Linked DNA regions of Homo sapiens: all the other regions are linked to region 3. Evidence: fine-mapped expression QTL. A gene starts in region 3. Each other region holds a variant in brackets. All regions are shown on one strand. Distances are between the middles of the regions. Region 1 holds the start of GATA1 (GATA binding protein 1). Region 2 overlaps HDAC6 (histone deacetylase 6). Region 3 holds the start of PQBP1 (polyglutamine binding protein 1).

What was found. PIP is the estimated chance that this variant, and not a neighbour inherited with it, causes the effect. A credible set is the group of variants that fine-mapping cannot tell apart.
Region 1: its variant is the best candidate, but not a certain one, in a credible set for the expression of PQBP1 in esophagus mucosa (GTEx, PIP 0.52).
Region 2: its variant is the best candidate, but not a certain one, in a credible set for the expression of PQBP1 in monocytes (Fairfax 2014, PIP 0.56).

Annotation. Positions count from the first base shown.
Region 1 is chrX:48,779,885-48,790,794 of GRCh38, forward strand. GATA1 (GATA binding protein 1) reads left to right here and starts at 6,706. Exons shown (of 6, transcript NM_002049.4): 1 at 6,706-6,761. RefSeq lists an enhancer at 2,780-3,508 and cis regulatory regions at 2,853-3,433, 2,913-3,413, 4,733-5,393, 5,833-6,953, 9,513-10,093 and 1 more. The variant G/A (reference allele first, on the strand shown) is at 6,598.
Region 2 is chrX:48,819,434-48,824,433 of GRCh38, forward strand. HDAC6 (histone deacetylase 6) reads left to right here. Exons shown (of 29, transcript NM_006044.4): 23 at 673-822; 24 at 3,187-3,361; 25 at 3,479-4,155; 26 at 4,239-4,352; 27 at 4,489-4,635; 28 at 4,733-4,861. Among named protein-coding and RNA genes, the nearest start is that of ERAS, 4.6 kb to the right of the region's middle. The variant C/CT (reference allele first, on the strand shown) is at 2,058.
Region 3 is chrX:48,892,738-48,900,289 of GRCh38, forward strand. PQBP1 (polyglutamine binding protein 1) reads left to right here and starts at 5,193. Exons shown (of 7, transcript NM_001032382.2): 1 at 5,193-5,345; 2 at 5,755-5,839. The coding sequence starts at 5,773. It overlaps TIMM17B (translocase of inner mitochondrial membrane 17B), which reads right to left and starts at 5,031. Exons shown (of 6, transcript NM_001395498.1): 1 at 4,987-5,031; 2 at 4,022-4,121; 3 at 2,301-2,364; 4 at 1,360-1,488; 5 at 1,163-1,273; 6 at 712-1,080. The coding sequence starts at 5,012. The coding sequence ends at 992. RefSeq lists enhancers at 4,547-4,696, 4,727-4,926, 5,217-5,586, 5,637-5,856.

The DNA of each region.
Region 1 (10,910 bases), 110 kb before region 3:
ATCTAAAGCATAAGCAGCCAAAGAAAAATAGACACACTGGAGTTCATCAAAACTATAAGCTTTCTGGCTGGACGCAGTGGCTCACGCCTGTAATCTCACCACTTTGTGAGGCTGAGGTGAGTGGATTGCTTGAGCCCAGGAGCTCAAGACCAGCCTAGGCAACATGGTGAAACCCCATCTCTGCAAAAAATACAAAAATTAGCCAGGAACGGTGGCATGCAACTGTAGTCCCAGCTACTTGGGGGACTGAGGCAGGAGGATCACTTGAGCCTGGGGGGTCAAGGCCTCGGTGAGCCACGTTCACCCCCACTGCACTGCAGCCTGGGTGACAAAGTGAGAACCTGTCTCAAAAAAAAAAAAAGTGAAAAGACAACCTACAGAAGACAATATTTGAAAATCACATATCTAAAAAGAGTCTAGTATCCAGAATACATAAAGAACTCTTACTACTCAACAATAAAAGGACAAATAACCCAATTCAAAATGGGCAAAGGATTTAAATAAACACTTCTCCAAAGAAGATAAATGGGCTGGGCACGGTGGCTCATGCCTGTAATCCCAGCATTTTGGGAGACTGAGGCGGATGGATCACTTGTGGTCAGGAGTTCGAGACTGGCCTGGCCAACATAGTGAAACCCCATCTCTCCTAATAATACAAAAATTAGCCAGGCATGGTGGCGGGTGCCTGTAATCCCAGCTACTCAGGAGACTGAGGCAGGATAATCACTTGAACCCAGCAGGTGGAGGCTGCAGTGAGCCAAGATCGTGCCACTGCACTCCAGCCTGGGTGACAGAGCAAGACTACATCTCAAAAAAAAAAAAAAAAAAAAAAAGAAGATAGATGACCAACAAGTTTATGAAAATATGCTCAACATCAGTGGTCACAGGGAAATGCAAATCAAAACCATAACAAGACACCACTTCACACCCACACCCAGTAGGATGGCTAGAATCAAAAAGAGGGACAATAAAAAGTGTTGGAGGCCAGGCATGGTAGCCTGTAATTCCAGCACTTTGCAAGGCCAAGGCAGGCAGATTGCTTGAGCCCAGTAGTTTGAGACTAGCGTAGGCAACGTGGCGAAAATCCCATCTCTACGAAAAATTAACAAAAATTTAGCTGGGTGTGATGGCATGCACCTGTAGTCCTGGCTACTCAGGAGGTTGAGGTGGGAGGATCACTTGAACCCAGGAGGTTGAGGCTGCAGTGAGCAGAGATCATGTCACTGTACTCCAGCCTGGGGAACAGAGTGAGACCCTGCCAAACAAAAGAAAAAAGAAAAAAAAGAAAAAAGAAAGAAAGAAAGAAAGAGAGAGAGAGAGAGAGAGAGAAAGAAAGAAAGAAAGAAAGAAAGAAAGAAAGAAAGAAAGAAAGAAAGAAGAAAGAAAAGAAAAGAAAAGAAAAGAAAGAAAGAAAGAAAGAAAGAAAGGAGTGTTGGAGAGAATGTGGTTAAATTTAAATTTGAATCCCCATATGGCAGCTGTGGAGAACACTTGCAGTTCCTCAGAAAGTTAAACATAGAATTACCATATCACCCCGCAATTCCATTCCTAGTTATATACCCAAGAAAACGAAAAACATATGTCCACATAAAAACTTTCACATGAATGTTCATAGCAGCATTATTTGTGATAGCCAAGAGTCCATCAATGGGTGAATGGATAAGCATAATGTGGCATTTCTTTTTCCTTTTATCTTTTGAGACAGGGTCTCACTCTGTTGCCCAGGCTGGAGTGCAGTGGTGCAATCATGGCTCACTGCAGCCTCAACTTGCTGATCCTCCCACCTGAGCCCCCCAAGTAGCTGGGACCACAGGCATGCACCACCACACCCGGCTAATTTTTCTTTTTTGTAGACACGTGTTCTTGCTACGCTGCCCAGGCTGGTCTCGAACTCCTGGGCTCAAGCAATCCACCCACCTCAACCTCCCAAAGTGCTGAGATTACAGGTGTGAGCCACCGCATCCTAGCTATAATGTAGTAGGTATTTTCATACAAAGGAATATTATTCAGTCATGAAAATGAATGAAGTACTGATACATGCTACAATATGAATGAACCTTAAAAAACTTATGTGAAGTAAAAGAAGGCAGTTACAAAAGGCCACATATTATATGACTGCATTTATATGAAATGTCCAAAACAGACAAATTCATAGAGACAAAGAGATTTGTGATGGCCCGGGGATGGGAGGAGAGGGAAATGGAATGGGAGGGTGTATGTTAATAGATATAGGGTTCCTTTTGGGGGTGATGAAAATGTTCTGGAATTAGGTAGTGGATAGTTACACAACCTCGTGATATACTAATCGCTTTGCTATACATTTTAAGAGTGAATTTTATGGTTAAGAGCAAATTTTATGGTATGTGAATTATGTCTCAATAAACAGAAAAAGAAAAAAAAGAATGAACTATTGATACACACGACAATGTGGAAGAATGTCACAGACATTATGCTGAGCAAAAGCAGCACATACTGTATGATGTGCTTCCATTTCCATGAAGTGCAAAAACAGGCCAAAAAAACCCCAGGTATCATATGGTGTTTATGGGTACCAACATATGGAGTGATGGAGTAAAAATACTCATGAGGAAGATAAACACCAAGCTCAAGGCAGTAGAAGGAGAGAGGGAAATGGAATCAGTACAAGAGCATCTGTAATATCGCATATCCTTTAAAAACAATCTGAAGTCAATAAGGCAAAATATTAATGTTTGACAAAAGTAGATGCTTGTTACAGCACCCTTTATACTTTCCATTTTTTAAAACAGTCAACCAACAGTTTGTTTCTGAGGGCAAACGCTTGACTCCTTAACCAGGCTTTGGTTGACATTTGCCTTGGTGCTTTTGACACCACAGTCTGTCAGGCTCTGTCCCCACCCTGATGGGCTCCACAGTACAGAAGAGGCACAAACAGTACAAATGCCATGGGGCCTGGACCAAGCAGGGGCTCTAGAACCCCAGAAGATGCCAGGAGGGAGTGAGCCAGTCAGGGAAGGCTTCCGAGAAGAGAGGACATTGAAGAAGAGTCTCAAACTTAGGCCTGACGGAGAAGACGCGCGGCCAGGACACCCCACCCCCGCCCTCGTCTCCCCCAAAGCCTGATCTGGCCCCACTGATTCCCTTATCTGCCCACTCCCAGCTGCCTCCTTGCTGGCTGAACTGTCGCCGCAGACTTCTGAGCCTGCGCCCCCTCCACGGGGATGGGGGAGGGAATGGGGTGAGGCCTGGCCTCACAGCCTCGGGGTTTCCAGCTCTTGCTGGAGGCAGGGCTCTGGGGCGCCCTACTCCTCACCCTTGGCTTCTCTTCCTGAGCGCTCTGTGCTCTCCAGAAATGAAGAAATGGGGTGAGTCCAGCGGCCAAACCCTTGTCTTAGCTCTTAGACATGCCTCGAGCCTGCCATTCCCTGTGAGGACAGATTTCCCTATGTTGCGACCGCTGCTTCTAATAATAATAATGATGATGATAATTCCCATTTACAGAGCACACCATTTATGGTGTGCCAGCAGGCCCTGTGCTGAGTGGTTCCTACCCACGTGGGGGGCTAGGACTTTACCCGTTTTCCAGATGAAGAAACTGAGGCTCAGAGGGCGTCTGGCCCAGGAATCACACAGCAAATCACACAGCAAATCAGAGTTGAGACAAGAACCCAGGGCCCTGGAGGAACATCTTCATTTCCACACACCTATGTAGAACCAGTCTGGAGGTGAGGGCAATTATACACACTTGCACCACAAGGAGCTGGTGAGAATGCGATAGAATTATGGGTGGAGAGCGCTTAGCACAGTGCCTGGGGTCACTCAGCAAATAATGCCGCTGCTGTTATTATTAGTCTATTAATGCTATTATTAATATCAGAATTAAACAAGCCTCGGCAACATAGCGAGACTTCATCTCTATTGAAAAAAAATTTTTTGCTGGGTGTGGTGGCATGCACCTGAAGTCCCAGCTCCTCAGGAGGTTGAGGTGGGAGGATCACTTGAGCCCAGGAGGTGGAGGCTGCAGTGAGCCAAGATTGTCACTGCACTCCAGCCTGAGTGACATAGTGAGACACTGTCCCCAAAAAATATTTAGTACGTATCATTATCACTATTGTTGTTAGAATTAGAATAGTTTTAGAATTAGTGTTAGTATTAATAATAGTATTAGTGTTAGATTAAAATTAGTATTAGCATTAGATGAGTATTACTATGAAAATTAGTATGTCCTCATAGAAGTAGAGAGTAGAATAGTGGTTACCAGCAGATGGGAGGGTAGGAGGCAGGGAGGGATGGGGAGAGGCTGTCAATGGGTACAAAGCTACAGTTAGATAGGAGGCATAAGTTCTGGTGTTCTAATGCATAGTACAATGACTAGAGTCAACAATAAATGTATATTTCAAAATAGCTGAAAGAGGCGTTCTCGAATGTTCTCATCACAAAGAAAAGATAAATGTTTAAGGTGATGAATATGCTAATTACCTTGATTTGATCACTACACAATGTATACATGTAACAAAACATCATGTTTTACCCCATATATATGTACAACTATTATGTGTCAATCATAAATTTAAAGAAATAAAATTAGTTTTAGTGTCAGTATCAATATTACAATATTGGTATTACTCTTAGTGTCAGCATATTATTAGCATTAGTACTATAAGTAGTAGTAGGGTTAGAAAGGGCTATGTACTCTCCCTTGTATGCAGTAGGTACTCAATAAATAAATAGGGGTACTTAATATTTATTGAGATTTCAGATTCAAGTAAGTTAAGATCATGTAACATGGGTTAAAACTCATTTAGTCTCCCCAGTCACTGCATGGAGTGGCTTATTGGGGTATATTATTACCCCATTTTTACAGATGAGGAGCTAAATTCCAGAGGGGATGGTAACTCTCCCAAGGTCACCTGATCCATTAGTGGTTAGGGCAGTCTATGAACGAGGATGAGCTGGCTCTAGAGACCATCTCCTGAAACCACTGCCACTTAAGTCAGAGGTGTCTTTGTATTCGTTCTCCTTATTACTGATGAGGGTTCAGCATGGGGCGTGGCACACCAGCAGGAGCTCAATAAATAGGAATTCATGGGCTTGCTCTCTTTCCTCCTCAAATCTCCCATTGCATATGAGGACACTGAGGCTCAGAGGAGTGAGATAAGAATGGTAAGATCCCTCCAGGGTGGGCCAGTGGGCAAGCTGACCCCACTGACCTGGGGCTCCACCCTTGGCCTCTGCCCTTTGTAGGTCTCAGTCTCCCCATCTGTAGACTAGGTGGGCAGGACAGCTCCTTGTCCCACGTGTGCATGTGTGTCAGATGCTTTCATATAGAAAAAGTGCTCAGGTTAGGTACAAGTCTATGTGAGGTCTATGAGACACTGTGGTTGTTGTCATTAATATTTGGAGGAGGTGGGGCAGGGCAAGAGTGTGGGGACTGGGGTGCGGAGGCCTAGCCACATTCTGGTTGTCCCCTGCTGAGGGCTGAGGGCAGAGCCACAGGCTACATCAATCCACATCCTCCCATCCTACCTGCATGGGCACCACATGCCCAGGGTGTGATCCAGTCTGCCTGGACCTTCTTCTGAGTCTGTCTCTGAATATCCCTCTGTCTCTGTCTCCCTTCTCAGTTCTCCACTTCTGTCTTTGGCCTCTTTCCCTTTCAGGTTTTATCTGTCACTTCTGTCCATCTCTGTCTCTCATTCTCTCTTTGCCTCTCTCTATATGTCTTTAATGGTCTCTGGTTCTCCCCGGGTGTCTCGCCCTCTTTGTCTCTCCTTTTCTTTTGTGCCCTCTCTCTGCCTCTTTCCACGTCTGTCTCCTTCTCTATTCATCTCTGTCACTCTCTTTCTCCCCATTTCCATCTCTCTCCGCCTATCTCTGTTTTTGTTTGTCTCTCTGCCTCTGTCTCTCCCACTCCACCCCTTTCCTTTCCTACCCTATACCACTCCTCGAGGAATCATCCCTGGCTCCCACCTCAGTTTCCCGCCTCCAAGGCAGCATGGCGGGCAAGAAGTTGAGGCCACTGTCCCTGGGTGTTCCTACCCCCACACCCTCACCCCAAGACAGCCTGTTACTGCGGCGCCAACAGCCACGGTCGCCTACATCTGATAAGACTTATCTGCTGCCCCAGGGCAGGCCGGAGCTGGCGTAAGCCCCAGTGGGGCGCTAAGTGAGTGTGCCCCTGCCTCCCGCCAGCACTGGCCTGGCCTGCAGGCTTAGCCTGGGTCATCAAGGTATCCCACAGGCTCTAGTTCAAATCCAGCAGAACCTCTCTGAGCCTCACTCTTCTCACCTGCAAAATGGGTACAGCCACATCCCTTCTCTCCCTGCAGCCAGGAAGACGCACATACACAGGAGTCTAGCCCACACCGGCCCCGCACAAATTAAGGGCTTTACTCTCTGAAAAGCCCAGTGAAGTCATGAAACCATATCTGCTATTTTCATTTATCTTGGTTTCAGCCTATTTTGCTTGTCTGGACACTACAGTCCACGGGAGCCTAGGTCGAGCGAGGTCCAAGAATCCCCAGGGTGGGCAGGGAGGGTGGAAGAGGGCCTCCAGTGCCCAAGAGGTGCCCCACAAGCATGGGACCCGCCCCCTCCCCTGGACTGCCCCACCCACTG[G/A]GGCACCAGCCACTCCCTGGGGAGGAGGGAGGAGGGAGAAGGGAGGGAGGGAGGGAGGGAGGAAGGGAGCCTCAAAGGCCAAGGCCAGCCAGGACACCCCCTGGGATCACACTGAGCTTGCCACATCCCCAAGGCGGCCGAACCCTCCGCAACCACCAGCCCAGGTCAGTCTCAGCCCCCAGAGAGCCCCCACCAAGGCAACCCTGGGCCTGCTGCCCCTACCCTTATGCTTGCTCCAGGCTCCCCAACCCACAGCTGGTCCCCAAAGTGTCAGCCAGCCCTGAATCCCTTTACAGCTCCTCCAACCCACCTGTCTTTCCAACTCCCATTTCTACCCCAAATCTACCCCCTAAACCCCACCTCTTTCTGCCCTCTCATCCACTCCGTCCAAGATATCTATATCCTCTGGATCCCTTCACTTTGCTCGCTATACCCCTAGGTCTGTCTCCCCTAAACACTAACTCTGTCTCCCAAAACATGACTTTATCTCCCCAAATCCTTTCCCTGTCCCATATCTGATTTCCACTCACCCAAACTTGTCTCTGTCTCCCTGACTTCTCCTCCAAACCTCACTTTTCTGCTCCCAAACCCCTTATCTGCTCTACAACGCCTTGTCTTTGCCCCACTCTCTCTGAGCCCCCAAACCTGTCTCTGATCTGCCAAACCCTAGCTCCATCCTCTTACCACCATCTCTGCCTTTCAAACCCACTCTTTGTTCCCAATGACTTCTCTCTGATCTCCGCAAACCATTTATCTCTCCCAACTCCCTGCCTGCTCAGTAAAATATCTTTGTCACTTCAAACACCAAGTCAACTCCCCAAAATCTGTTCTGCCGCATGAACCCTCATGTCTGCCTTCCCCAAACCGTATCTCAGCCCTAAAACACATCTCATTGTCTCCCTGAATCTCTCCAGCTCCAAGCCTTTCTCTACTCCAATTCTATCTTGGCTTCTCAAACTCCCCTTTACTAGCCACATTCTGTCTGCCCAAACAGATCTTTGACTCCTAAACTCCATCTCTCCTCCAGAAAAACCCTTGAACTCCCCAGACTTTTCTATGACCCTCAGAATCTGACTCCCACACTACTTCTCAACTTTATTTCTGACTCTCAAACTTCGCCCCGATCCCCCAACCTCGTCTGTTTTCACAACCTATTCCTGAGCCCAAAATGTGTCTCTGAACTTCCAAGCTCGTCTCTGCTCCACAACCCCGCCCATATCTGCCTCCCCACAAACTCCATGGCTACACCCCAAACCTCTCTGACTTAACCCCATATCTGACCTTCAAATTCCACCTCTATCTCCCCCTAAGCCCCATATCTGCCCCCTAGACCTTATATCTGCTCCCTTCAGCCCGGTGAGACCCTCCCTTGAGGGCTGGGATTGGAACGTTACCTGGGGTGAGGGGCTGGGGCCGAGGGAGAGTGGAGGGTGCCAGCTGCTGCCTGCTGCCGCCGTTGGGGCAACACTTACTCTAGTGGGGCAGCTGATAAGGAGCTTTCATATCCCCCAGCCTCGAGATAAACTTTATCTCTGTCCGGAGAGTGATAACTGGGGGTGAGGAGGCTGGGCCCCTGCCATGGGAGGGGTGGGCAGCCCTGGACTCACCAACGTGTGAGGTGCAGGGGTTGGGGGCAGTGGGGCTGGAGGGAGATCATGGTGGGTAAGGTGGAGTTGAGGGGATGAGGGAATAGTGGTGAAAGAGTGAGCAGAAGACACACAATGAGACAGGGAAGAGAGGGAGAAACAGGGAGAGATGGGAAGAGAGAGACAGAGACACAGAGACAAAGAGCAAGAGACAAAAGAGACATGAAGAGAAAGGAAAAACAGAGAGAGAGAAACTCAACGAGTAAGAGACAGAGACAGACAGATGGCCGGAGAAAAAGAAGGAAAGACCCGGGAGCAGAAAAGGAGATAGAAATGCAGAGATACACGCAGGTAGCACTGTGAAGAGGCAGAGACTAACACAGAATTAGAGACAGAGAGGAAAGAGATGGAGACCAAGATGGGGAAGCAAAACACTCTCTTCAGAGAGCAACAGCAGGCACCCTGGGGCTGAGAAGGTGTTGGCGGTGGGCACACTTGTGGCCCATCTCTTTCCTAGCATAACTCCCAAGCCTGGGCCTGCCCCTTAGCCTGTCTATACCATGGGTCATGTAAGCAGGAGTGAGGGGCAGTTTGAAGACAGCCTTCTAGTCTAGCCCTGTCACTCCACCCTACAGACACAGAAACAGAGCAGGCCAGCACAATAGGGCCAGGGCCAGCATTCCAGGCTCCTTATCCTGAGCTGCATGTGGCTGGGTACGGTCAGGGGTATGGGACTAGTAAGAGGCACGTGGACATAAGGTCAGAGGGCCCAAAGAGAGGGAAACAGAGGGAACAGACAAACAAGCAGGAAGAGTGGGAGAGATGCAGAGATGTTCAGAGAGATAGGAGAGGAGAGGGAGAAAGCAAGAGTAACAGAAAGAGAGAGCCAGAGAGAGAAACATGGGAAGACAGAAAAGAAGACAGAAAATCATCAAACATTACAAAAGCACAGAAAGAGGTCGGGCGCAGTGGCTCACGCCTATAACCTCAGCACTGTGGGAGGCCGAGGTGGGCCGATCACTTGAGGTCAGGAGTTCAAGACCAGCCTGGCCAACATGGCAAAACCTCGTCTTTACTAAAAATACAAAAATTAGCTGGGTGTGGTGGCATGTGCCTGTAATCCCAGCTACTAGGGAGGCTGAGGCACGAGAATCACTTGAACCTGGGAGGCTGGGGTTGCAGTGAGCTGAGATCGCACCACTGCACACCAGCCTGGGTGACAGAGTGAGACTCCGTCTCAAAAAAAAAAAAAAAAGAAAAAGAAAAAGCACAGAAGGAGAAGACAAGCTATATCATAGAAACACAGAAAGCTGGGGAAGCTACAGAGTCAGACTTGAGAGGGAACAGAGAGTCAGGGGAAAGAGCCCCAGGGGATAGAGAAGTGGAGAGCTAGATGACAGACACACACAAGGCAAAACAGGCAAAGGGCCATCCCACAGGTCTCAGCTCAGCCCCAGCCCATCACCACCCCCAATACAGCAGATGGGGAAACTGAGGCCTGGGAACTGAAAGAGCCTGAAAGCAGAACTCTGGTGGGCCTCTCCAGGGGAGAGGGTACCGGTAGAGGTACCTCCCACCTGCCACCCTCTTCAGAGGAAGTCAGTGGCCTTGGGGTGATTTCAAAAGTTGGGCGGGGAAGGCAGAGATAAGCAGTGGGGGGTACTGACCCCCCCCCAACCAAGAAGTAGGGAGGAACTAAGGGGGCCTTCTGTCTGTAGACGCAACAGAGGTGGAGGGAGGAGGGAGTCAAGCCCGGAAACCATGGGGTTTCTGAGAAAGTTAGAGGGCAAGATACAACAGATAGGGATGAAGTTGGGGAGCAGAGGATGGTGAACCCCAAAGTCCTGGGTGAAGTGACCAAGAGGCAAGGGACTCTGGTCCTGCATGCCATCCCACCCTCACCCAGACTCTTCTAGAGGGGGAGGGAAGAAAGGACGGGGGGACGGGGAGAATAAGAGGAAGTGGAGGAGGGGAGGAGAGGAGATGGGGAAAGGGAGAAAAGGATGAACAGAAAAGGGAGGAGAAGGATGAAGAAATTGGAGGGGAGGAGAAAATGAGTAGTAGGAGAAAGGAGTGGAGAGTAGATGTAGACAGGGGAAGAGAGGCCGGAAGTGGTGGCTCACACCTGTAATCCCAGTACTTTGGGAGGCTGAGGTGGGAGGATCACTTGAGGCCAGGAGTTCAAGACCAGCCTGGGCAACAGAGTCATACCCCATTTCTACAAAAAAAAAACAAAAACTAGCCAGGCCTGGTGGCACACACCTGTAGTCCCAGCTACTCAGGAGGCTGAGGCAGGAGGATCACTGCCGGGAGGCAGTGGTTGCAGTGAGCCGAGATCGTGCCACTGCACTCCAGCCTGGCAACAGAGGAGACCCTGCCTCAAAAAAAAGTGTGTGTGGATGGGGGAGAGGGAGATAAGGTGTGTGAGAAAGGTAGAAAAGGAGAATGAAGACAAAAAGAGAAGGAGGACAAGGAAGAGGGGAAACAGGAAAGGAGAAGGAGGAGGTCAAGGAGGAAAAGAAGAAGGTGGAGGAGAAAAAGGAAGCAGGAGAGAATGAGAAAAGAGTGGAAAGAGAAGGAAATGGGGAAGAGGGGGGCAAAGAAGAGATGGGAAGAAGAGAGACGGGAGAAAGACAGGAGGAAAAGGGAAGGGGGGAAGAAGAGAGAGAATGGAAGGAAGAAGGGAGAGGTAGAAGCAGATGAGAGTGGAGGAAGAGCGAGAGGAGG
Region 2 (5,000 bases), 75 kb before region 3:
GTGTGTCCCACGTTTGACCCTGGGGTATGTGTGTGTGAGGACATGTCTCTGTCTCTCTGTTTTTCATGTCACTCTCTTGACGTGTCAGTCTGTCTCATGTCCCCATCTGTCCCTTTTTTTTTTTTTTTGAAATGGAGTCTTGCTCTGTCACCCAGGCTAGAGTGCAGTGGTGCAATCTCGGCTCACTGCCAGCTCCGCCTCCTGGGTTCATGCCATTCTCCTGCCTCAGCCTCCTGCGTAGCTGGGACTACAGGCTCCCGCCACCACGTCTGGCTAATTTTTTGTATTTTTAGTAGAGACAGGGTTTCACTGTGTTAGCCAGGATGGTCTCAATCTGACCTCATGATCTGCCCGCCTCGGCCTCCCAAAGTGCTGGGATTACAGGCCTGAGCCACCATGCCCGGCCCCCATCTGTCCCTTTCTGCCATCTCCATGTCTCTAAGTCTGCATCTATTTCTTCTACCTCTGAGTCTGTATTTCTTTTCTTCCCTTCTTCATTTTCAGTCTCTGCTTTTGTGTCTCCTAGTCTCCAGGTTCTGTGTCTCCATCTCTCTGACTTGCATCTCCATGTCTTCATTTGTCCTTTTCTCCATGTCTCTGGGTCGCCATCACTTACTGCCTACCAAAAGCCCCTACCCTCATGCTTATACATCTCTTCTCTCCCTGCCTCAGTTTAACCCAGAACTGGTGCTGGTCTCAGCTGGCTTTGATGCTGCACGGGGGGATCCGCTGGGGGGCTGCCAGGTGTCACCTGAGGGTTATGCCCACCTCACCCACCTGCTGATGGGCCTTGCCAGTGGCCGCATTATCCTTATCCTAGAGGTAACTTTCTCTTGGTCCCTCTTCCCACAGTGGGAGGGTAGTTTGGAAATGTTGGCACCATCACTCAGGACAGTTTCCTGAAATCTCCTTTGAGTGTCCCTGCCTGGGATTGTTGGCACATACTGGGTAGTAATAAGAATAACAGCAACATTAACAGCCTTAATTGAGTGCTCACTATGTGCAGAGCACTCTTCTGAGCACCTCATGTGTCTTATTCATTCAGTTACTTGGCAAAGCAGCCTTATGAGGTAGGGTAAGCTTACCTCATTTTCCTCTCTGAAGATCAGGGAAACTGAGGCACAAAGAGGTGTGATGACTAGCCTGAGATGGCACATTTACTGATGGCAGAACCAGGACTTGAACCCATGCAGCCTGGCTCCAGGGTTTGTGCTTTTTACTCTACCTGAACTGCCTCTAACAAGTTCCTGGGACAAAGGAAATTCACTGACCTTTGTAAATGACTCAGTATCCCCACGCCCTGTGCCTCAGTTTCCTCATCTTTATGAGGCAGGCTAATCATGGAGGAATGCCTGGCATATGGTAAATGCTGGATCTTTTGGATCTGGTTTTTTGTTGTTGTTGTTGTTGTTGTTGTTTGTGAGACAAGAGTCTCGCTCTGTCACCCAGGCTAGTCTGCAGTGGCATGATCTCAGCTCACTGCAGCCTCCACCTCCCGGCTTCAAGTGATCCTCCCACCTCAGCCTCCTGAGTCGCTGGGATTACAGGCACCCGCCACCACGCCCAGCTAATTTTTGTATTTTTAGTAGAGATGGGGTTTCACCATGTTGGTCAGGCTGGTCTTGAGCTCCTGGCCTCAAGAAATCCACCCACCTTAGCCTCCCAGAGTGCTGGAATTACAGGCATGAGCCACCGCACCTGGCCCCTGGTTACTGTTATGCGTTGTTCAGATATTAACCCACTCAGCAACCTTCTGTGCTCTTATTTTCTTTTTCTTTTTCTTTTTTTTTTTGAGACGTTGTCTTGCTCTGTCGCCCAGGCTAGAGTGCAGTGGTGCGATTGTGGCTCACTGGGTTCAAGCAGTTCTCTGCCTCAGCCTCCTGAGTAGCTAGGATTACAGGTGCCTGCCACCACACCCAGCTAATTTTTTTGTATTTTTAGTAGAGACGGGGTTTCACCATGTTGGCCAGGCTGGTGTTGAACTCCTGACCTCGTGATCCACCTGCCTCAGCCTCCCAAAGTGTTGGGATTACAGGCATGAGCTACCATACCTGCCT[C/CT]TTTTTTTTTTTTTTTTTTTTTTTCCTTTTGAGACAGAGTCTCGCCGTGTCACCCAGGCTGGAGTGCAATGGCGCTATCTCGGCTCACTGCAGCCTCTATCTCCCAGGCTCGAGCAAGCAATTCTCATGCCTCAGCCTCCCGAGTAGCTGGGACTACAGGCGCATGCCACCACGCCTGGCTAATTTTTGTATTTTTAGTAGAGACGGGGGTTTCACCATGTTGGCCAGGCTGGCCTCAAACTCCTGACCTCAGGTAACCTTCCCGCCTCGGCCTCCCAAAGTGCTGGGATTATAGGGGTGAGCCACCGCGCCCAGCCTGTGCTGTTATTTTCACCACTTTACAGATGAGGAAAATAAGTCACTGAGAAATTAATTGGCTTGCAAAAAGTCGCACTTACTATGTGCCCAGTACTGCTTGTGACAGGACACGGTGGGAGTTAAGAACACAGATGACTCCATCAGAGAGCCCAAGTTCAAACCCCAGTGCTGCCTCTTCAGCTGTTATGACCTCGGACAAGTCATCTAACCACTCTGAGCCTCAGTTTCTTTATCTGTAAAAAGAATAGCAACTGGGATTCCTGTAGAGTGTAAAAAAAGTCAATACAGGAGTCCATGTGGAGAAAGAGTCCAGTTGTTCCTGTACTAGGTCAGGGCAGGGGCTTTTGTATGGGTTCACAGCAGTCGTCTTGTGCAGGTCAGGTCAGTGGTTACTGTATGATGTGAGGCCAGGGGTTCCTGGACAGTGTGAAGACGGATTTCTGTATGGCATGAAGGCAAGTTCCTGTATAGATTGAGCGCCTGTGGTTGTGAGGATTGAGTTAATATGCATGAAGTACTTAAAATCGGGTCTGGCACACAGCAAACAATAAATGTCAGCTGTTACTAATGCTTTTATCAGTATTGTTATCTTGCACTTTACATCACAATTTACTCCCCACAACAACCACCTTACACAGTGGGTGCTGCCTATCTTAAAGGTGTGGGTTCTGTTCACTTGTTCTCAGTACTCCCCCTCCCTCTCCAGACTTGCAGGGCTCAGTAGGGAGGATTGGGGAGGCAGGACATGTTGTCCTCCAAATTCCCCAATGAACCCCCACCATACCTTTCCCTCCCCTTTTCCTTAACAAAGGGTGGCTATAACCTGACATCCATCTCAGAGTCCATGGCTGCCTGCACTCGCTCCCTCCTTGGAGACCCACCACCCCTGCTGACCCTGCCACGGCCCCCACTATCAGGGGCCCTGGCCTCAATCACTGAGACCATCCAAGTCCATCGCAGATACTGGCGCAGCTTACGGGTCATGAGTGAGTGGATTTGGGGGTGATGGGGGGAACCCAGGGAAGGAGGGGGCTGAGGGGCAGAGATCAGAGGCAGGAAGGGTGACAGTACCCACACTCAAGGATCTCCCTCCCTGGTTCCAGAGGTAGAAGACAGAGAAGGACCCTCCAGTTCTAAGTTGGTCACCAAGAAGGCACCCCAACCAGCCAAACCTAGGTTAGCTGAGCGGATGACCACACGAGAAAAGAAGGTTCTGGAAGCAGGCATGGGGAAAGTCACCTCGGCATCATTTGGGGAAGAGTCCACTCCAGGCCAGACTAACTCAGAGACAGCTGTGGTGGCCCTCACTCAGGACCAGCCCTCAGAGGCAGCCACAGGGGGAGCCACTCTGGCCCAGACCATTTCTGAGGCAGCCATTGGGGGAGCCATGCTGGGCCAGACCACCTCAGAGGAGGCTGTCGGGGGAGCCACTCCGGACCAGACCACCTCAGAGGAGACTGTGGGAGGAGCCATTCTGGACCAGACCACCTCAGAGGATGCTGTTGGGGGAGCCACGCTGGGCCAGACTACCTCAGAGGAGGCTGTAGGAGGAGCTACACTGGCCCAGACCACCTCGGAGGCAGCCATGGAGGGAGCCACACTGGACCAGACTACGTCAGAGGAGGCTCCAGGGGGCACCGAGCTGATCCAAACTCCTCTAGCCTCGAGCACAGACCACCAGACCCCCCCAACCTCACCTGTGCAGGGAACTACACCCCAGATATCTCCCAGTACACTGATTGGGAGTCTCAGGACCTTGGAGCTAGGCAGCGAATCTCAGGTAAGGCTCACCACACCCAGGTAGGGGCAAGAAGGGGCAAGAATCGGGCTTCTCTGATACATCTCTTACTTCTGCGTGTCCAGGGGGCCTCAGAATCTCAGGCCCCAGGAGAGGAGAACCTACTAGGAGAGGCAGCTGGAGGTCAGGACATGGCTGATTCGATGCTGATGCAGGGATCTAGGGGCCTCACTGATCAGGTGAGCTCAGGGAGAGGCTGGGACTGTGGCTTCCTTCTCTTGCCAATTTGTGTCTCCAGGTAGGAGCATGTGATGAATAAACATATAATGGGGAGATGGGGTCTTCAGCTTACCTAGTTTCACCCACCCACTCCAGGCCATATTTTATGCTGTGACACCACTGCCCTGGTGTCCCCATTTGGTGGCAGTATGCCCCATACCTGCAGCAGGCCTAGACGTGACCCAACCTTGTGGGGACTGTGGAACAATCCAAGAGAATTGGGTGTGTCTCTCTTGCTATCAGGTATGGAGCAGAGGAAGGGGATGGGGCGGAGGTTGGCCCGGGAGCAAACTGCAGGGGGATGCTGACCCCCACCTGACACTCACACCCCCAACCTCAGGTCTACTGTGGTCGTTACATCAATGGCCACATGCTCCAACACCATGGAAATTCTGGACACCCGCTGGTCCTCAGCTACATCGACCTGTCAGCCTGGTGTTACTACTGTCAGGCCTATGTCCACCACCAGGTGGGCCCTGGGTAGACCCTTCGACACGTGCACACTCACCCCCCACACACACACCCCTTCTGTGATTGGGTAAAGGGAGACCACAGGCCCCTCTGCATGGCTGCCTCATGTGATTATTTTGCATGGGGCGGGGGCTGTG
Region 3 (7,552 bases):
TAATCCCAACTACTCAGGAGGCTGAAGCAGGAGATCACTTGAACCCGGGAGGTGGAGGTTGCAGTGAGCCGAGATCACGCCACTGCACTCCAGCCTGGGTGACAGAGCAAGACTCCGTCTCAAAACAACAAATAAAAACACTTGACCACACTGAGCAGAGGAAAGCAGAAAAGCAGCTCTGTGACAGAAGGGGAGGCTGATCCAGGGCACCTTCTTTGAAGGAGCTAGGTCTCCTGGCCCCCTTCTTCCATCCCAGATCCACCCTGAGGCCACATGGAGGGAGGGGAATCACCTTCACAAATGCCGTGCTGAGTGTCCAGAAAGAAGGGACTCCTGTGAGGCCACATTTCCCAGCCTCGGTGACGGGGGCTTGTGGACCAGGAGTCAGGGATATTGGAGTGTGTGGGGGGGGATGGGGTCAGGGGTGCAACGTCCAGAACCACCCCCATCCCCAGCAATCCTGGTGTTCATTCACTTCTTTCCCAAGCTTGTTCCTCTGACAGCTAGGACCCATCACCAGGCCCCAGACAACCTTATTCATGTCCCTAATTCACATCTTCATTCTCCCTTCCTGCTCATCCATCCCATAGACATTTACTAGAGCCCACTTGCTGTGGGCCTCCAAGTCCTAGGGCTTCCAAGTCCCTGAAGCAGGCTCTGCCCCTCATCCTAAGGAGGGGCCCCATAGGCAGTTCAAGGAGTCCACACATAGGCATTTCAAAACGGGCTTTAAATACTCATCAGGGTGCCACACAAAGGAGCTGGGGTGAGAACTTCGTACATGTGAGTGTGGGGCTGGGGTGCCCTGAGAGAGAAAAAGGGGACCCATCTGTCAGGGCAGCTGGGGTGCCCCACCCCCACCCTGGGACTAGGGAGCAGAGTAGAAACCCTCTCTGGAGGGTCCCAGGGCTAACTGGGAGCCAGCCCTCCCTTCGAGGTAGACCATCGGGGAGGGAACCGAGAAGTAGCTCCCATGGTGGCAGTGGCTTCCTCAGTGGTACTGCTGATAGCTGGGGTAGCCTGGGGCCGGGGTGCCATCCTTAGGGGGCAGCTGGCTGGGGTCCTCCAGGAATGGGGGCGCTGGAGAAGGGAGACTTGGGTAAGGATGAGTGGAAGAGGCCAGGTGGAGTATTTCCCACTCCCCCGACCACCAGTTACTCACCATTTCGGAACTGCTGGGCTGTGTAGCGAGTGAGGAGGATGCCAACGCCCTCAATGAGGGCCAACAGGATGCCCCCCATCATTGCTGAGCCCACCATGGCCAGTGGGCCACCTGGGGGAGTTGGAGGCAGAGAAACAGAGGTGAGAGCAGGCAGAACAGGGTGGAAGGGGCTGGGGCCAGGGCCAGGGGTCACTCACTGCGGGCAGCCAGCACAGCCCCGGTCAATGCTCCACTGGTGATAGAGTTCCAGGGATCCTCCTTGCCCCGAAGCCGCACCAGGCCACAGTCGATGGTGGAGAACAGGCCCCCCCACACTGCGAAGCTACCTGTAGTGGAACCGAGGCCTAATTAGTTCCTGGGAAATCCTGAGAATTCACATCTCAGGGGACTTCCAAGGCCTGAATGCTTTGGCCAAGAACAGGGAGAAAAACCCAGACACAAAGGCAGATAGCAAACCCACACAGAGTATTTCCTATCTGTCCCCATCCTGTGGTAGCTCCCACTTCAAGCCGTCTATAATCACCATCAACATTCCCTTCATCTTTATGGGGAGTTGACAAATGTTTACAAGCAGATTTATCTTCATATGGCTTTTAACAGAGCAACTTTGAGCTTCATAATCACCACACAGAGTTGGAATTCTGATTTGGGTTTCAGTGAGAAGGAAATAGGTTAGGAAACCCAGTTAATATGATAGTTAAAATGTTTACTGAGGGCTTACTGTGTGCCAGGACCTGTTCGAGGTGCTCTGTTATTTAACTTCTGCAATTTTAAATTAGTTAATGTTATTAAAGTGTTTAGCATAGCAACCAGCACTTAGTAGTATGTAAATTACATAAACTATAAAACTACCGATGAAGTGGTTACTGTTATCACCACCCCCACGGTACAAGTGAGGTTCAGAGAGGTTAAGCCACTAGCCCAAGGTCACATGGCAGGGAACAGTCAGGACCTAGATTTAAACTCCAGAACCCACTTTCTTCCCCTCCATATTCAATTGTTGGGAAACATCACCCCCCTAGAAAGTCTCTGGCAGGGGCTAGAATCTGAACCCCTAACTTGCAGCCTAGACCCAAAGGATCAACCACTCCCACCTTTGCCAAGACATCTCCTATATCTATCTCCCCAAGTCCCTCACCTCCAATCTGGGGGGCTCGGATCCTCACAGCATTGGCACTACCTCTCAACCGGTGCCGAATTCCCTGGGGAAAGGAAGGAAGGGCGTTAGGGCAGGGCTGAAGCCACTGGCAGACACGTTTCCAACTTTTAAGAGAGGGAAGAAGATGGGAGACCTGTTAGAGGTATGAGCTGTAGAGATGTGGAGAAGTGGCCAAGAACTAGTGGCCTGGAGAGCGCCCCAACATGGGTGTTCTCAGAGCTAGGTTGAGAAGTGCTAATTCATTCATACATTTGTTCATTCATTCATTCAGTGAATGATTAACAAGTACCTACTATATGTGCCAAGCACCATGCCATATGCAGGGATACAGCCATGAACAAGGTAGGTCTGCTCTCTGCCCTCTCAGAGCTCACATTAACGGTGGGAGACACAGATCTTGAGCAAGAGTAGATAAACAAGGGAGCTTCAGACAGCAATCTGCACTGTAGAGGAAATGCCATGAAGAAATATGACTGGGGCTGAGGGGTCAGGAAAGGCCTCTTGAAGGAGGGGGAATCTGTGCTGAGACCTTGAGGATGACAAACTTGGGCAAAGATCCAGGGAGGAGAGTTCCAGGAGTCTAGGGGAGGGACGGGGCTACATATATAAATTGCAGAGACCTTGGCTAATAGATGGCATTTAAAGTCATGGCATTTGCGATCTTCTGGGAGGGGAGGTGGTCAGAGAAAAAGAATTATGTTAAAAGAATTCTCTCAACTTCAAGGCTGTCTTCCGTCTGCCAATTAAATTCCTGTCATTTTCCTCTATCCGGGTTTCTGAGCCAGAATCTGCCTCTAGGTAAAATGCGCAGTGGCTAACACCTGTAATCCCAGCACTTTGGGAGGCTGAGGTGGGTGGATCACTTGAGTTCAGGAATTAGAGACCAGCCTAAGCAACACGTTGAAACCCCGTCTCTACAAATAAATAAATACATACATAAATAATTAGCCGGGCATGGTGGCGCAGTCCTGTGGTCCCAGCTACTTGGGAGGCTGAGGTGGGAGGATCACTTGAGCCTGGGAGGCGGAGGCTGTAGTGACCCATGATCAGGCCACTGCACGCCAGCCTGGGCAACAGGGCAAGATGCTGTCTCAAAAAAAAAAAAAAAAAAAAAAACATGGCCAGGCACAGTGGCACACGCCTGTAATCCCAGCACTTTGGGAGGCCGAGGTAGGTGGATCACCTGAGGTCCAGAGTTCAAGGCCAGCCTGGCCAACATAGTGAAACCCCATTTCTACTAAAATTACAAAAATTCGTCAGGTCTGGTGGCACATGCCTGTAGTCCCAGCTACTTGGGAGGCTGAGACAGGAGAATTGCCTGAACCCAGGAGGCAGAGGTTGCAGTGAGCCAAGAGCGTGCCACTGCACTCTAGCCTGGGCAACAGAGCAAGACTGTCTCAAAAAAAAAAAAAACTGTCTGGCTTTGCACATACATTTAAAATTTGGTGATGACTCTTTGAACGACACAGCATTTCCACAGAGGAGCTCCAGTTGGGTGGGGTGGAGGGTGGAAGACAGAGGCCATGTTTGCAATCCCTACAAAATCCCAGATACAGGAGCCAGGCTCGGCACATAGTAGGTGAGTGGGCACCAGAATGAATAAGTGCACGTGACTGGCAGCTCCAAGCAGTTTTCAGAGCAGCCTCCCTTGTGGGCAAGATAGCTAACCCCACACCAACCCAGGGAAGGCCTGGACTCACAACAGGGGCATTGCGGAAACCCTTGATGGCCTGGAAGACTCCGCCACCGATGACACCCATAGTGAAGGCTCCACCGCAATCATCCACAATTCGCCATGGGCTGCAAGCAGGAAGGGAAGGACGGGGTTAATGTGAGCCCTCCCCCAGGTCCTGTCACACGAACTCTTTTCTAACTGGGAGAAACCAAGTCACCAGAATGGGAAGTTCCTAAGTAGGAACAAACACTTCAGATAATAATGAGCTAGTTCTGTCACGCTTTTTCCACACACCCCCCCATTAAAGCGAGAAATGGGGCAAAGGGGGAGAAATATTAGTCTTCGCCCTGTCTACCAACCAAGGAATCAGCCAACGGTTTTACTGTGATCAAAGATTAAATGAATTGGCACACGCAGAGTTGACGTTTCAATAAGCGACATAGGCGTGTTAACTAGCCAAGACAGACTGTCAGCAAAGCAGGACCGCGTCGCACCCCTTCTCCGACGGTGAGCCCGTCCAACCATGCCCCGCCCCTTTTCAATCCGGCACAACTGGGAAAAACCAAGAGCGACCGCGGGAAGCATCCACCGTCCCCGCCGGCCCTCAACAGGTTCATCCGTGCCCCGCCCCCCACTGACAAAGGCGACCTGGGAAAAACCACTGGCGGCAACTCTGGGGATTTCCGGTCAACACCGTACCACCCCTAGCCGGGATGGATCGTCCAGCGTGTCTTTTTTCGTTAACAGGGCTAGGAGATTACGAAGTCAGGAGAAACATGGCGTGGTTCGGCCTTCGCCGCACCTTCTCTGGTTGTGGCCCCTCATAACGGAGCCCGAATGACAGGAACCGAGTGGGGGTAGCGGGAGATACGTTAAGAGTCCCCCGAGTCTGGTACATGGCTCTGTGCGGCCGATGCCTCCCCCGCCCGACCCCCACGGCTGGCCTTGGCGTCGCAGCAATATTCCGGATGCCTGTGCCCATTGCCGTACCAGGGCTCCCGAGCGTACTCCTCCATGGCGCTGGCGTCTGGCCGCGCAGTCAGGCCACGCCCCCAGCGTAGACGCACACCGGCGTCGGAGCTTTCCGCCTATTACCGGGCAGCGATTGGGTCGCTATACCGCATGTCACGCCAAGGACGCACTCTCATTGGCCAATCGAGTTTCTGCCATTTGTTCATTGCCTCCTGAGCGTAGTCCAGTTACTTTCAGGCTCGGGGAGTGAAGGCCTCGTTGAGAGAAGGTCTCATTCGGTGTTTTGGGAAGAGAGTCGTGTGGGCCCAGGTATCGTAGCGGCGACACGAGAGAGACGGGCGGTGTGACAGCCTTCCACTACCTGCACGAGTGTATTGGTAACGTTGGGGTGGGTGCACTCTTTTGGAGCTGGAGGAAGTGCTGCCCTCTGCTCCCCCATCCCAGCGCTTTGGTTTCTCCCACCCGGCAGTCATGGGGACGCTGGATGAGCCCATTTCTGAAGTGCGGAGGGGCCGGGCTTCTTAGGCTGTGGGCGGAGCCTGGGCCTGGGAGAGGAACAGGGCCCTGGAGCACCTGGTTTCGGGGACAGTAGGGTTGGTGGGAGTTGCGATGATATTGCCACCTACCTCTTACATCTTTTAGTGCGTATGTTCTGTCCACCCAGCTACTGGTTCATTTGAGTAGATCGGAGTCAGATGAGTACATGTTTACGGGAGGCGCTTGGTTACGGGATCCAGATAGGAATCTTTATCTGAGCTGCTTGTCAGTTTGTTCGTCTGTCCCTAGGTCTGTCTGCTATCAGCTATGCCGCTGCCCGTTGCGCTGCAGACCCGCTTGGCCAAGAGAGGCATCCTCAAACATCTGGAGCCTGGTGAGACAGCTAAAAGCAGATGGTCCTAACACGTGCCAGCCTCGACAGGCACTTTTGTTGTTGATACTGACGCTTGATACCTAGCATGGGCCAACTGTGCACCAAGCAATGGGGTGGCAGGCATTTTTCGTTGTTAACAATGTGGATTCCTGACATCCATCCCTACCGCGTGTCAAGTGGAGGGGGTTGGGGGAATAGATATTTCATTCTTTTTTTTTTTTTTTTTTTTTTTTTTTTTTTTTTTTTTTGAGGCAGAGTCTTATTGTGCACCCAGGCTGGAGTGCAGTGGCGCGATCTCGGCTCACTAAAACCTCCGCCTTCCAGGTTCAAGCGATTCTCCTGCCTTAACTTCCCGAGTAGTTGGGACTACAGGCACGCCCCGCCCCACCACACCTGGCAATTTTTTTTTTTTTTTTTTTGAGACAGAGTCTCGGTCTGTCGCCCAGGCTGGAGTGCTGTGGCGTGATCTCGTCTCACTGCAACCTCCGCCTCCCGGGCTCAAGCGATTTTCCTGTCTCAGCCTCCCAAGTAGCTGGGATTACAGGCACGTGATACCACACCCGGCTGATTTTTGCATTTTTAGTAGAGACGGGTTTCACCATGTTGGCTAGGCTGGCCTCTAACTCCTGACCTCAGGTGATCCACCCCCCACCCTTGGCTTTCCAAAGGGTTGGGATTACAGGCATAAGCCACTGTGCCCGGCAGATATTTCATTCTTAACAATACTGACTGGCTGGGCGTGGCGGCTCAAGCTGGCATTCCCAGCACTTTAGGAGGCTGAGGCGGGTAGATTGCTTGAGTTTAGGGATTAAGAGATTAGCCTGAGCAACATGGCAAAACCCCGTCTTTACAAAAAATACAAAAATTAATCGTGTGTTGTGGTGCATGCCTGTAGTCCCAGCTACTTGGGAGGCTGAGGTGAGAGGATCTCTTGAGCCTAGGATGTCAAGGGTGCAGTGAGCCGAGATTGTGCCACTGCACTCCAGCCTGGCCGACACATGGAGACCCTGTCTGAAAAAAATCCAAAAAAAACAACAAAATAATACTGACCACCTAATGCCTATTTGGGGCCTACTGTATGCCAAGTTAAATCCCATGGATTACTCTATGGGGGTGATGACATAGTATCTAATAGGAAGTACTGCTAACCTCTACTGCTGTCTCCTGTGTGCCAAGCGTAGTTGCAGTGAGGATCTATCATTTAGGCCTACTGTGCTCTGGCTGCAAATCACACCTTATTATCAGTAATACTAAAAACTGGCATCTATTTGGGGCTATAGTGTGCCAGGCACTGGAAAATATATCTTCTCCTTATTGATAACTGACATCTATTACAAGCCTACTGTGTGCAAGGTATAGACCTTGTGGTTAATAAAATTGTCAATGATCCCAGGCCGGGCAGGGTGCCTCATGCCTGTAATCTCAGCGCTTTGGGAGGCGGAGGTGGACGGATCACGAGGTCAGGAGATCGAGACCATTCTGGCTAACAGGGTGAAACCCCATCTCTAATAAAAATACAAAAAACTTAGCCGGGCGTGGTGCCAGATGCCTGTAGTCCCAGCTACTCGGGAGGCTGAGGCAGGAGAATGGTGTGAACCCGGAAGGCGGAGCTTGCAGTGAGCCGAGATCATGCCACTGCACTCCAGCCTGGGCAACAGAGAAAGACTCCATCTCAAAAAAATAAAACTGGCAATGATCATTGATTTACTTTTT